3 linked regions of the Homo sapiens genome follow. Each later gene encodes a partner of the first gene's protein in a complex. Each region holds a gene or a part of one and is shown in the gene's direction. Other genes may lie near its edges. The genes, in order: EIF3C, EIF3J and EIF3I.

Region 1 (3,748 bases):
CATCAGTAGTTGTGGTTGGGAAGGCATGGGAAAATGGTGTGGTCCTCTGCAGTGTAGTTAGGCCTGACTTCCGTTGGTGTCTCTCAATAATGAGTTTTTAGTCTCTTAACTATGTATTAAGTAGAGGTAATACTCGTTTAGAAATGTTGCTTTTATCTGTTGATTATATAGCTGAGGATATAAACATTTGTTATCTGATAATTTCTAACAAGATATGAATATACCAGAGTATAATCTGTCATAGGAGAGGTCAAGCCAAGTCTTAGGTCTTTCAGTTAGAATTTCATACAATAGTACATTTCCCTTTTGAGGTGTGTATCATACTATCTTTAGTGCTAGAAGTAATACTTTAGCCAAGGAAGTTTAAGTTCTTTTGAAGCATTCATTTTAAAAAATAGCTTTAGTTCTTCTGATCTCAGAGCTATACAGATGGTTTGGACCAAGAGGTTTTAGTTTAATGAACATGCTTTGCATATTTGCAAAGGATTTTACCTATAAAGTGAGTCATCATTAGAGTCTTGCAGTGGTACAGGGGAAAGATCCATAAGCTTTTGTTGTTGTTGTTGTTGTTGTTGTTGTTGTTTTTAATAGAGACGGGCTTTTTACCTTGTCACCCAGACTGGTCTCAAACTCCTGGGCTCAAGCAATACGCCCACCTCGGCCTCCCAAAGTGCTGGGATTACAGGCTTGAGCCACCGTGCTTGGCCAGTCCATACACTTTTGTTGAGAGTTATGGCATTGGTCTTCTGGCAAGGGAAGACTTAATTTAACTGGTAAACTTATAGACTATTCCAAAAACATATTCAAACCTTTTAAGCAGTGAAAATGAAATTTATTTATAAATGTTCAAATGGTAGATTATGGTTATTACATATGAGTTTTCAAAAATGTTGAGTCTTTCTGGAAAGATTTATTCTTCAGTATCTGTGCAAAGTTTGAAGTAATTTGTCTTTGCCATTTGGTTTGTATTTTGTTACATAAATACATACTCAAGTCTGGAGATGGTTTCAGGCAACATCCAGTAGCCTAAGACCATTTTAAGGTAGCTGGTGATCTTTTTCTGTTTTGTGGGGACCTTTTTTGTAATGAACATTTTTTTTAAATTCAGAATTTAGATTAATCGGTTGTCAAGAGAGGAGAGAAAGCGATAAAACAGTTTAGGAATAGTAAAAAAGAAAAAAATGTTTTTATATATTTGGGGGAACTGATTCATTGATTAGTTGGTCAGTCTGGAGAAAGCAGCTGGTATCAAAGAAAATAAGTTGTTTGTGGATTCTTTGGAAAACTGTAGATGTTAGCTTTGGAGCAAAATGACAGGTTGGTTTTTTTTTGTTTTGTTTTGTTTTGTTTTTTTGGAGACTGAGTCTTGCTCTGTCACCCCGGCTTAAGTGCAGTGGCATGATTGTGGCTCACTGCAGCCTTCTCTGCCTCCCAAGTTCAAGTGATTCTCGTGCCTCAGCCTCCTAAGTAGCTGGGACTACAGGCGTGCACCACCATGCCTGGCTAATTTTTGTACTTTTAGTAGAGATGGGGTTCCACCATGTTGCCCAGGCTGGTCTTGGATTCCTGACGTCAAGTGATCTACCATGCTTAGCTGACAGGTTGTTTCTATTAATATGTCTACAGTGGCCTGGTTAGTACTCTGTCTTGTTAGAGATGGCTATGGTTATGGTTCACTGTGCCCTCTAGGTCATTGTTGTAGAGCATAACTTGGACCCAGGAGCTGCTGGAGGAAAAGAGGAAGTTGATGGGAGGAAGAAGCCTTAGAGGTGGGGAGGGGCTGATCTGTCATCTTCTCCCATGTCTGTCGGCAGGGCACCCACCACAGATGAGGACAAGAAGGCAGCCGAGAAGAAACGGGAGGACAAAGCTAAGAAGAAGCACGACAGGAAATCCAAGCGCCTGGATGAGGAGGAGGAGGACAATGAAGGCGGGGAGTGGGAAAGGGTCCGGGGCGGAGTGCCGTTGGTTAAGGTGAGGGTTTCAGAGGTAAAATGAATTGGGGAACAGTTTGGGAGGACATAAAGGTCCCCTTGTGGGGAAAAGGCAAGGACAGTTTCCCGCTGGCATGTACATGACGGGATATGTGCTGATACAGGAGAAGCCAAAAATGTTTGCCAAGGGAACTGAGATCACCCATGCTGTTGTTATCAAGAAACTGAATGAGATCCTACAGGCACGAGGCAAGAAGGGAACTGATCGGTAAGATTCGTGGGCCTGGGCAGTGGGATTGCAGGGTGGCAGAGGGTGGAGGTTGGGGGAAGGGATTGTTGGGAGGGTCTGTGTGTGGCTGTAGTAGAGGGAATTGTATGCTTGGGGCATCCCCGTCCATTATCTGCTGTTTACTCTTCTTGTGACTTAAAACCAATCACTTAACGTTTTGGATCTGTTTTCCCATCTATACAATGAGATAATGTTCTCCTCTTTTTTTTTTTTTTTTTTTTTTTGTTTGAGATGGAGTCTCGTTGTTGCCCAGGCTGGAGTGCACTGGCGCGATCTCGGCTCACTGCAACCTTTTTGCCTTCTGGGTTCAACCGATTCTCCTGCCTCAGCCTCCTGAGTAGCTGGGATTACAGGAACCCGCCACCATCCCTGGCTGATTTTGTACTTTTAGTAGAGATGGGGTTTCACCATGTCTCGAACTCCTGACTTCAAGTGATCCGCCTGCCTCAGCCTCCCAAAGTGCTGGGATTACAGGCATGAGCTACCACACCTGGCTTTTTTTTTTTTTAAGATTAAAAAAGTAAAAGAGTGTTTACCTTCTTTAGTTATTAGGTAACAGAGGATGGTGGTAGGTGTGAAGCATTTCACAGCATTCCAGGATGGTTGGGATTATTGTTGCTTCTGTTTGGAATTTATAAAGGAGAAGCAGGGATATGGGTGATGAGGAGGGCGCGTTATCCGAAGCGGGCATGCTGGGAGAGACTTTGTGATTTGTCTCCAAAGCCTCACCCAGCTCTCTGGCCCTCTAGTGCTGCCCAGATTGAGCTGCTGCAACTGCTGGTTCAGATTGCAGCGGAAAACAACCTGGGAGAGGGCGTCATTGTCAAGATCAAGTTCAATATCATCGCCTCTCTCTATGACTACAACCCCAACCTGGCAACCTACATGAAGGTGAGAGCAGTGAAGAGGCTCATCTCAGGGCATCGCTGGTGGGTTGGGGGAAGAAGGTACCTAGCATCTTAAGACTCAGGGGCTATGGAGGCAGTCTTGGTGGTGGAAGGCCCCATGATTCCTGCTGAAGGGGGAGGCATCCGCTTACTCTACCTTCACACCTCTGACTCTGATGTGGCCTGAAATCTTGGCAGCCAGAGATGTGGGGGAAGTGCCTGGACTGCATCAATGAGCTGATGGATATCCTGTTTGCAAATCCCAACATTTTTGTTGGAGAGAATATTCTGGAAGAGAGTGAGAACCTGCACAACGCTGACCAGGTAAAGGGAGGAGTTGGCAGGATAACTGGAGGTGTGTATTTTATGCTTTGGGAAGGCTCAGTGGGACCCGAGGGTTGAGGTTTGAGACTGAGATCTGGGCTAATTTGTTGACTCCTCCTTCGCCTTCCTTTTCAGCCACTGCGTGTCCGTGGCTGCATCCTAACTCTGGTGGAACGAATGGATGAAGAATTTACCAAAATAATGCAAAATACTGACCCTCACTCCCAAGGTGAGCCTGAGCAAGCGTGGGCTTTGCTGAGAGGAAAATTGTGGGGAATATTACTAGGTTTAGAGCTTTGTGAGGATTATACTAA
Region 2 (3,748 bases), on another chromosome or scaffold:
GCACGATCTTGGCTCACTGCAACCTCCGCCTCCCAGGTTCAAGCAGTTCTCTGCCTCAGCCTCCCGAGTAGCTGGGATTACAAGCGCCCACCACCACACCCAGCTAATTTTTGTATTTTTAGTAGAGACGGGGTTTCACCATCTTGGCCAGGCCGGTCTTGAACTCCTGACTTCGTGATCCACCCGCCTCGGCCTCCCAAAGTGCTGGGATTACAGACGTGAGCCACCGCGCCTGGCTATATATATATATATATATATATATATATATATTTTTTTTTTTTTTTTGTAGATACAGGGTTTCGCCATGTTACCTAGGCTGGTCTCAAACTCCTGAGGTCAAAGTGATCTTCCCGCCTCGGCCTCCCAGAGTGCTGGGATTACAGATGTGAGCCACTGCACCTGACCTATTTATTTTGAGACGGATTTGTGAGACTGGCTAATTTTTGTGTTTTTGGTAGAGGTGGAGTTTCGCCAAGTTGCCCAGGCTGGTCTCAAACTCCTGAGGTTAAAGCGATCTTCCCGCCTTGGCCTCCCAGAGTGCTGAGATTACAGGTGTGAGCCACTGCACCTGGCCTATTTATTTTGAGACAGATTTGTGAGACTGGCTAATTTTTGTGTTTTTGGTAGAGATAGAGTTTCGCCAAGTTGCCCAGGCTGGTCTCGAACTCTTGGAGTCAAGTGATCTATCCTCCTCAGCCTCCTAAAATGCTGGGATTATGGGCGTGAGCCAGCAGACTCAGCCATATCACCAAATTTCTGAATTCTTATGTTTTTGTACTTTTTATGAGGAGTTGCAGACAAGGCTTAGTTTCCGTGAGGTCTTCTGTTCATGTCAGCATCTAGTACTTAACCTTTAAAAATACAGGTTTAATGTCATTTGTAATGTCCTGGGAAATGAAAGGAAAACTGATGTTTTTGTTATTATAATTTGCTCCAGCACTTTACTCTCATTTAGTAGACTTAGTATTTTGCTGTCCTTGACTTTTCAAATAGCTGTCTGGCAGTGGCAGAAGTGGACTTAGGTGAAACTGTACAACCGTTAATATATATGGCAAGAAAAGACTATGCTTTTCCCCAGTTAAAAAGATGAGAACTCGGGAGCATAGTTTCCCATCACCCTGGCTTTATTTACCTTTTTTACTATCCTGATAGTTGTGCAGAGGTAGTGGGAAGAATTGTTCACTTGGCATATATGACTCCTTCCTCATTGCTGGTATGATATGTAGGATGTGTTGACTGAGAAGGCAGTGAGTACCTACTGGACACAAGGACAACATAACTTTTGCTCCATTTTACTAGTCTCCTAGCATTTCAGTAGAACAGTTTAGAAGCTAGATTTATTCAAAGGGTACAGAGTTTGCAGAAACTTATAGCTGTGTTCAGCCATCTCACGCATTTGCCTCTGTAACCATATAGCATTTCTTTTAAAAGATCCTGAAGAGGCTGAGGCAAGAGGATTGCGTGAGCCTAGGAGTTTGAAGCCAGCCTGGGCAACATAGCAAGACCCCAACACATTTAAAGAGAGAGCGATCCTGAAGAACAGATTTAGTTGAGCCTCTCTCGTCCTACTCATTCACTCTCTGTTAGGATCCTATTCCAATAAATAGTTTGAATCTACCAGATAGGGACAATTTTCAGGGGTTGGAAACAACTTCTAAAGAACAGGATCTGTATTTTACAGAATGTGAAATTACTAGGAAATACCCAGAAGGTGGGCATTTTGCCAGAAAATGGGTATTTTGAAGAGAGTGTGTGTATGTGTAACTTAAGAAAAATTCCAAACATGCAGTAGAGAGAAACATTTAATAAACCAGTGACCAGTCTTGTCTCCTCTGTATCCCCACTTTCCTCCTCCAACCAGATTATTTTCAAGAAAATCTCAATCATATCATTTCATACCCTGCCACTTTTATAAACTAGCAAGTTTTGAATTAGGAAGCATGTTTGTTATTGAAAAATATTTTCTTGTCATGATGGATCATTGTAAATAAACCACTTGTTTAGTGTTCAGTGTCTTGATATCGCTGAGCCAGAAATTTAAAGTAGATTGATAACTGTCCTGAATATGAGACAGGTAGGCATTGAGATGGAACTCAGCTGAGTGCTGATCCATTGTAGTATGTTAAAAGCTTAATGAATTGAATTAAATGAAGTAGAATTTACTAAGGCAGGCACCTTGGCTTCTAGGCACCCAGCATAGTTCTGAGATGGTGGAAGAACATTTTGGCTTTTAAAAAACTGAACTTTGCTGGGAAGTCTACCCTTGCCAAGATCTCGTTGCACAGTTCTGAGTTCTCTCAGAACTGCACAGCTTACAGAACACAAATTAAAGGCTTTTTTTTTCTTTCCCAGCAAGAGATTATGTTTTACCTAAACCAAATTATTTAAAGAAAAAAGGAGAAGGAGTATATGTTAGTTCCTAGGCTGTTGCTATAGGGCAAAAGAGTTTTATTGCTCGTTTGAAGCTACTTCTATTTGACAATCTATAAATACATCTTGCTTAAGTTGGAAAGCATTTTCAGCCCTAAATGTGTTCTCATTGCATGTGACATAATGTAGTTTTATATTATGAAGACAGAACCAGCTAACTACTGGCCACATTGTTAGAAATAAAAAGAAAGCAAGATATAAAGTTTTCTGCTTTGCTTCTGATACTTAGTTGTGTTCAATTAGGGAAGCAAGTTTTAAAGTTAAAAAGCAGCCATCTCTTTCATAGAAATAGCTTAAATGATGGGTGTGTATCTGCAGGGCAAGAGTATAGATAAGCAAGTAGTTTATAAACAGGCCCTATTCTAAGAAGCTAGCCATTTTAGGAGAGCAGCCTGGGTGATTCTTTTGAAGATAAATTGGATATTATAGTTGAAAGATTAATTGGCTACCAAAAATAATTGGGTAAAGGATTTAATTGGATGTTCATAGGTAGTCTCTTGAACCAAATAACCATTTAGGGCTCTTTGAAGTGAGTTGTAGACTTGCTCCCTATTTTAAGTGTTAATTTTAGCTGTTTCTCTAGGAAGCCTTTTTACATTTTATCTGAATTTGCTGCTGGAATTTACAAACTTCTAATGTTTACAAAAAATTGGGCATATTTTTTGAAGCAGCGTGGTGAACATTCTACCTTAAATCTACTTTTCAGACACTTAATTTTATAACTATGGAAACAAAAACTCTAACTTCCTGGGGAAAGCTACCTGGCCTTTTGCTTTTATAATTACATCTGTTTGGAAGTGTGACCAGTCTCTTTTTGCTGACACTTACTATGCTCCTTTCTTTAGGGGCTTAGTGCTAGTTTGGTAGTAACTTCAGGGCAGACTTGTAAGCACTTTGGGGAGAGAGTGACAGTCAAGGTTTGGATGGTCCTTTTATGAATTGAGGAGCAGATGTCATGGCTCTTCTTGGTACATGTTGATAGGAACCACTTTTTTTTTTTTTTTTTGAGATGGAGTTTCGCTGTCTCCAGGCTGGAGGGCAGTGGCGCAGTCTCGGCTTACTGCAACCTCCGCCTCCTGGGTTCAAGCGATTCTCCTGCCTCAGCCTCCCAAGTAGCTGGGACTACAGGTGTGCGCCACCACACCCAGCTAATTTTTGTATTTTTAGTAGAGATGGGGTTTCACCATGTTGGCCAGGATGGTCTCGATCTCTTGACCTCGTGATCTGCCTGCCTTGGCCTCCCAAAGTGCTGGGATTACAGGCATGAGTCACCACGCCTGGCCAGAATCACTTCTTTTGCTACTAAAATCCATTCTGT
Region 3 (3,748 bases), on another chromosome or scaffold:
GCCAGGCACTCTCCTAGATGTTTCCCATTCATTAAATTTAATCCTCACAATGCTATGAAGCCAACTATATAAAACCAAGGCTCAAATGGGTGACTTGCTCATGGTCAGGTAGGTAGCACACAGTGGAAGCAAGAATGTGAAAGCCAGCACTTGGCACAGCAAAATGAACCTTCCTTCTTCCTCCGCTGGTCACACATGACTGCCAGGCTTCAAACCAACTCCAGTGCCTAGCAACATACTCATAACCAGCACACTGTGCCCCTCTTGTTCAGAGAAGAGGATAGTAAGAGGGAACTAGAGCTAGTCAGCCCTCTCTCACTGATGGGAATGAGGTGTTTCAAGCTCCACCCCGCCCCCCCCAATCACTCTTCCAGGTGGCCTCAAACACTAAGCAGAACAGTTCCAAGCCAGGACCCACCTGTCGATGCCAAGGTGAGGTAATAGAGAAGGGATCCACACTGGTTGAGGAGAAAGGGCATCAGGTACTGGAAAGAGGAGAAACCTGCAGTCAGTGTGATGGCCTGACTGAGCAGCACTGCCTTCTTTGAGCTCCTAGCGAATGTCTTTCCTTGGAGGGAGGCAGGGTTATAAGGACCCAGAGAACACTAATCCCTCTAAGGAGGATCCTTCCAGGGCAAAGAGGGAAACAGACTGAAGTCTGTGCCTTTGCTCAAACTACCCTCTCCCTCACCTCTGCTAGTTCCCATCCTGCAAGGCCTTGAAGCCAATGTCAGCCCCTCCAGGAAGCCTTCCCCAAGTCCTCCAGCTCCAGCCTTCCTCCTCTGAACTCCTCCCCTGCAGGGCCAATTTGAGCCCCAAGCCCTCCCTCTGGAAAGGCTCACAAATGTTGCCTTATGTAACTGAAGGAATCACAATAAAATGTGAATAATGGCAGCCATAGATTGAGCACTTACTATGTTCTAGGCCTAATGCTAAGTGCTCTACGTATCTCACCTAATTCCTGCAACTGACCTATCAGATGGTTATTATTATAATCGCCATTTACAGATGATGAAACTGAGGCTCAAGGACAACTGACTTTTCCGAGAATTTCTAGTGAGTAAGTGGTGGGGCTGACCCAGACCTGTTTGACTCCAAAGACCAAATTCTTGGCGGCAACTCCACCGAGAGAGGGGCCTTTCACAGAGACGCACCTCAGTATTCAAGAAGAGGGTCTTCATCTCCTGTAGCAACTGCTGGGCCCAGGTCGGCTCATGAACCCGCTGCAGGCCGGCGGAGGCCCGCTTCAGCAGCGGCTGCGTGCCACCCCACAGAGCGGCCACCAGCACCAGAGCCAACACCTGCCCTGAATGCAGACGAGTGAGTCACCCTGACCCCCACCCCAAACGGCCGCCCACCCCGCCCTCTCCTGGCCTTCTAGCCCCAGCTAGCCGCCCCCACTTCCCTCCTTCGCTCTCTTCGCCTCGGCTGCGACTGGCGGCTAAGGCAGGCCCAGGGAAGCTAGGGAGATGAATCCAGGAGTCCGGCCTCTGGGGTTGTAGCAGGGGTCGGGGTTAGAGGGTGGATGTGGAGCAGGAAATGAATTCGAGGCGAGGGTCGGGAAATCCATGGAAGGGCGGGGCCGGCTACCTACCCAGAGACGCCGCCATGGCAACGCCGCTGTCTTCTACTTCCGGGAACGAAGGGGCGGAGACCCATAATCCGGAAGTGACCTCGAAACCTTTTCCGGTCTTACTCACGTTGCGGCCTTCCTCGCGTCACAGCCGGGATGGTGAGTTTCAGAGTTAGGGGTATTGCAGTGGGGGTCCTGGGCTGAGGCTGGGGCCCAATTCCGAGCACTGACGTTACTGTCTTGTCCCCACAGAAGCCGATCCTACTGCAGGGCCATGAGCGGTCCATTACGCAGATTAAGTATAACCGCGAAGGAGACCTCCTCTTTACTGTGGCCAAGGACCCTGTGAGTGTTGGCTGGAGGGGGTCCGGGAGGGGCGGGATCCTTCTGCCAGGACGATGGGTGGACACGCCAGTTTTGCCGTTAGCGGGGAACCAAAGAGCAGCCCATTGTGAGAAGTAGGGAGAGGCCATGCCGGGGGTAGGTTGGCGAAAGTATTCTACCGGGAAAGGTGGGGAAGAACTCTATTGGCCGAGTGCGGTGGCTCACGCCTGTAATCCCAGCACTTTGAGAGGCCGAGGTGGGAGGGTCGCTTGAGCCCAGGAGTTGGAGACCAGCCTGAGCAACGTAGTAAGACCCATCTCTACACACAAAAAAATTAGCCTGACATGGTGGCCTCGCGCCTGTGGTCTCAGCTACTTCGGAGTCTGAAACGAGAGGATCGCTTGAGCGCGGTGAGCTGAGATCGTGCCACTGCACTCCAAGAAAAGCAAGAGACCACTGTGGAAAGGGGATAAAGATGAGGGTCAGCTTGCCCAGAGAACGGGATGCGACCTTTAGGGATAATCTAATCTTTCTACCAGGATAGGTGCAGGCTGTGTTATTCAGACACAGGGAACTTAATGAGGGTGTCTCTAGTCTCATTTTAAGTCAATCCCATCCTGCTACTCAATGCCAAACAATCCCTCATGATACTGCCTTTTGAGGCACCTGGCCATTTTATTTTATTTTTTCTTGAGACGGAGTCTCGCTCTGTCGCCTAGGCTGGAGTGCAGTGGCGCGATCTCGACTCACTGCAACCTCTGCCTCCCAGGTTCAAGCGATTCTCCTGCCTCAACCTCCCTAGTAGCTGGGACTACAGGCTCGTGCCACCATGCCCAGCTAATTTTTTGTATCTTTAGTAGAGATGGGGTTTCACCATGTTGGACAGGCTTGTCTTGAACTCCTGACCTCAGGTGATCCGCCTGCCTCGGCCTCCCAAAGTGCTAGGATTACAGGCATGAGTCACCACACCCGGCCTGGCCATTTTCAAGATGAGAAAACTGAAGTTCAGAGGAGAGAAGCACTGTATTTGAGATCATATAGTGAGACAGTGGCAGAGCAGGCACCAGAACCCAGACTTCCTTACTACCAGCTGCTCCCACTTGGATAAGACATCAGAGATACTGTTTTTCTGGACTGGAGCTCAACTTGGCCTTTTATTCTTTGGAGCCGTTGGGAGTCCCAGGAGAGCTGGAGCTAACAAATGAGGATGCCTTTACAAGCCGCCTGACTCCTCTGTTGCTTCCCTTCAGGAAGGGAGGAGAATCCAGGAGTTGGTCTTTTTACCAGCTCCCTGCTGTTTCCCAAGAAATAAACAGAAGAGGGCAGAATCAGCCTTGCTACAGGCTGCTGAGGGTTCCTGGGGCAAAATAGGAAGCCATTGCTCTTACTGGGATGTGTACTATCCTGTGGTTTGACTTTTCCAGATCGTCAATGTATGGTACTCTGTGAATGGTGAGAGGCTGGGCACCTACATGGGCCATACCGGAGCTGTGTGGTGTGTGGACGCTGACTGTATCCTTATTTTGGGTCTGAGTCCGTGTTGCTAGGGTCTGTCAGCGATGGAGAGGCTGAGTTGGGAGTTGGGAGTTGGGGGTGCTGTTGAGGGCCTAGAGAACGATACCTCCTACTCCCTGGTCTCTTCACTGACTGAGGAAACATTCAGGACAAATTCCAGTTCTGGATAAGGAGGTAAGAGGGGTAGAAAGGCTCTTTGGGGCTGAACAGGGAGATGATTCACTTGGCATCCCAAGAGGACAAGGGCTCGGGTGAACTTCGTCATATTTCTTAACAACTCTTCAGGGGACACCAAGCATGTCCTCACTGGCTCAGCTGACAACAGCTGTCGTCTCT

The links.
Region 2: EIF3C (region 1) and EIF3J share a complex: the UniProt entries of both Homo sapiens proteins name them as parts of the eukaryotic translation initiation factor 3 (eIF-3) complex.
Region 3: EIF3C (region 1) and EIF3I share a complex: the UniProt entries of both Homo sapiens proteins name them as parts of the eukaryotic translation initiation factor 3 (eIF-3) complex.

The regions. Positions count from the first base shown.
Region 1 is NC_000016.10:28,721,350-28,725,097, forward strand, and holds part of EIF3C (eukaryotic translation initiation factor 3 subunit C), read left to right. Parts: intron 1-1,814; coding exon 1,815-1,974; intron 1,975-2,098; coding exon 2,099-2,202; intron 2,203-2,902; exon of another isoform or gene 2,903-2,972; coding exon 2,973-3,114; intron 3,115-3,308; coding exon 3,309-3,434; intron 3,435-3,569; coding exon 3,570-3,663; intron 3,664-3,748. UniProt on the Homo sapiens protein: Component of the eukaryotic translation initiation factor 3 (eIF-3) complex, which is required for several steps in the initiation of protein synthesis.
Region 2 is NC_000015.10:44,539,999-44,543,746, forward strand, and holds part of EIF3J (eukaryotic translation initiation factor 3 subunit J), read left to right. Parts: intron 1-3,748. UniProt on the Homo sapiens protein: Component of the eukaryotic translation initiation factor 3 (eIF-3) complex, which is required for several steps in the initiation of protein synthesis.
Region 3 is NC_000001.11:32,220,713-32,224,460, forward strand, and holds the start of EIF3I (eukaryotic translation initiation factor 3 subunit I), read left to right. Parts: upstream 1-1,694; 5' UTR 1,695-1,729; coding exon 1,730-1,732; intron 1,733-1,825; coding exon 1,826-1,918; intron 1,919-3,321; coding exon 3,322-3,409; intron 3,410-3,697; coding exon 3,698-3,748. Other genes in the region: TMEM234 (transmembrane protein 234), read right to left, coding at 419-485, 1,155-1,306, 1,595-1,610. UniProt on the Homo sapiens protein: Component of the eukaryotic translation initiation factor 3 (eIF-3) complex, which is required for several steps in the initiation of protein synthesis.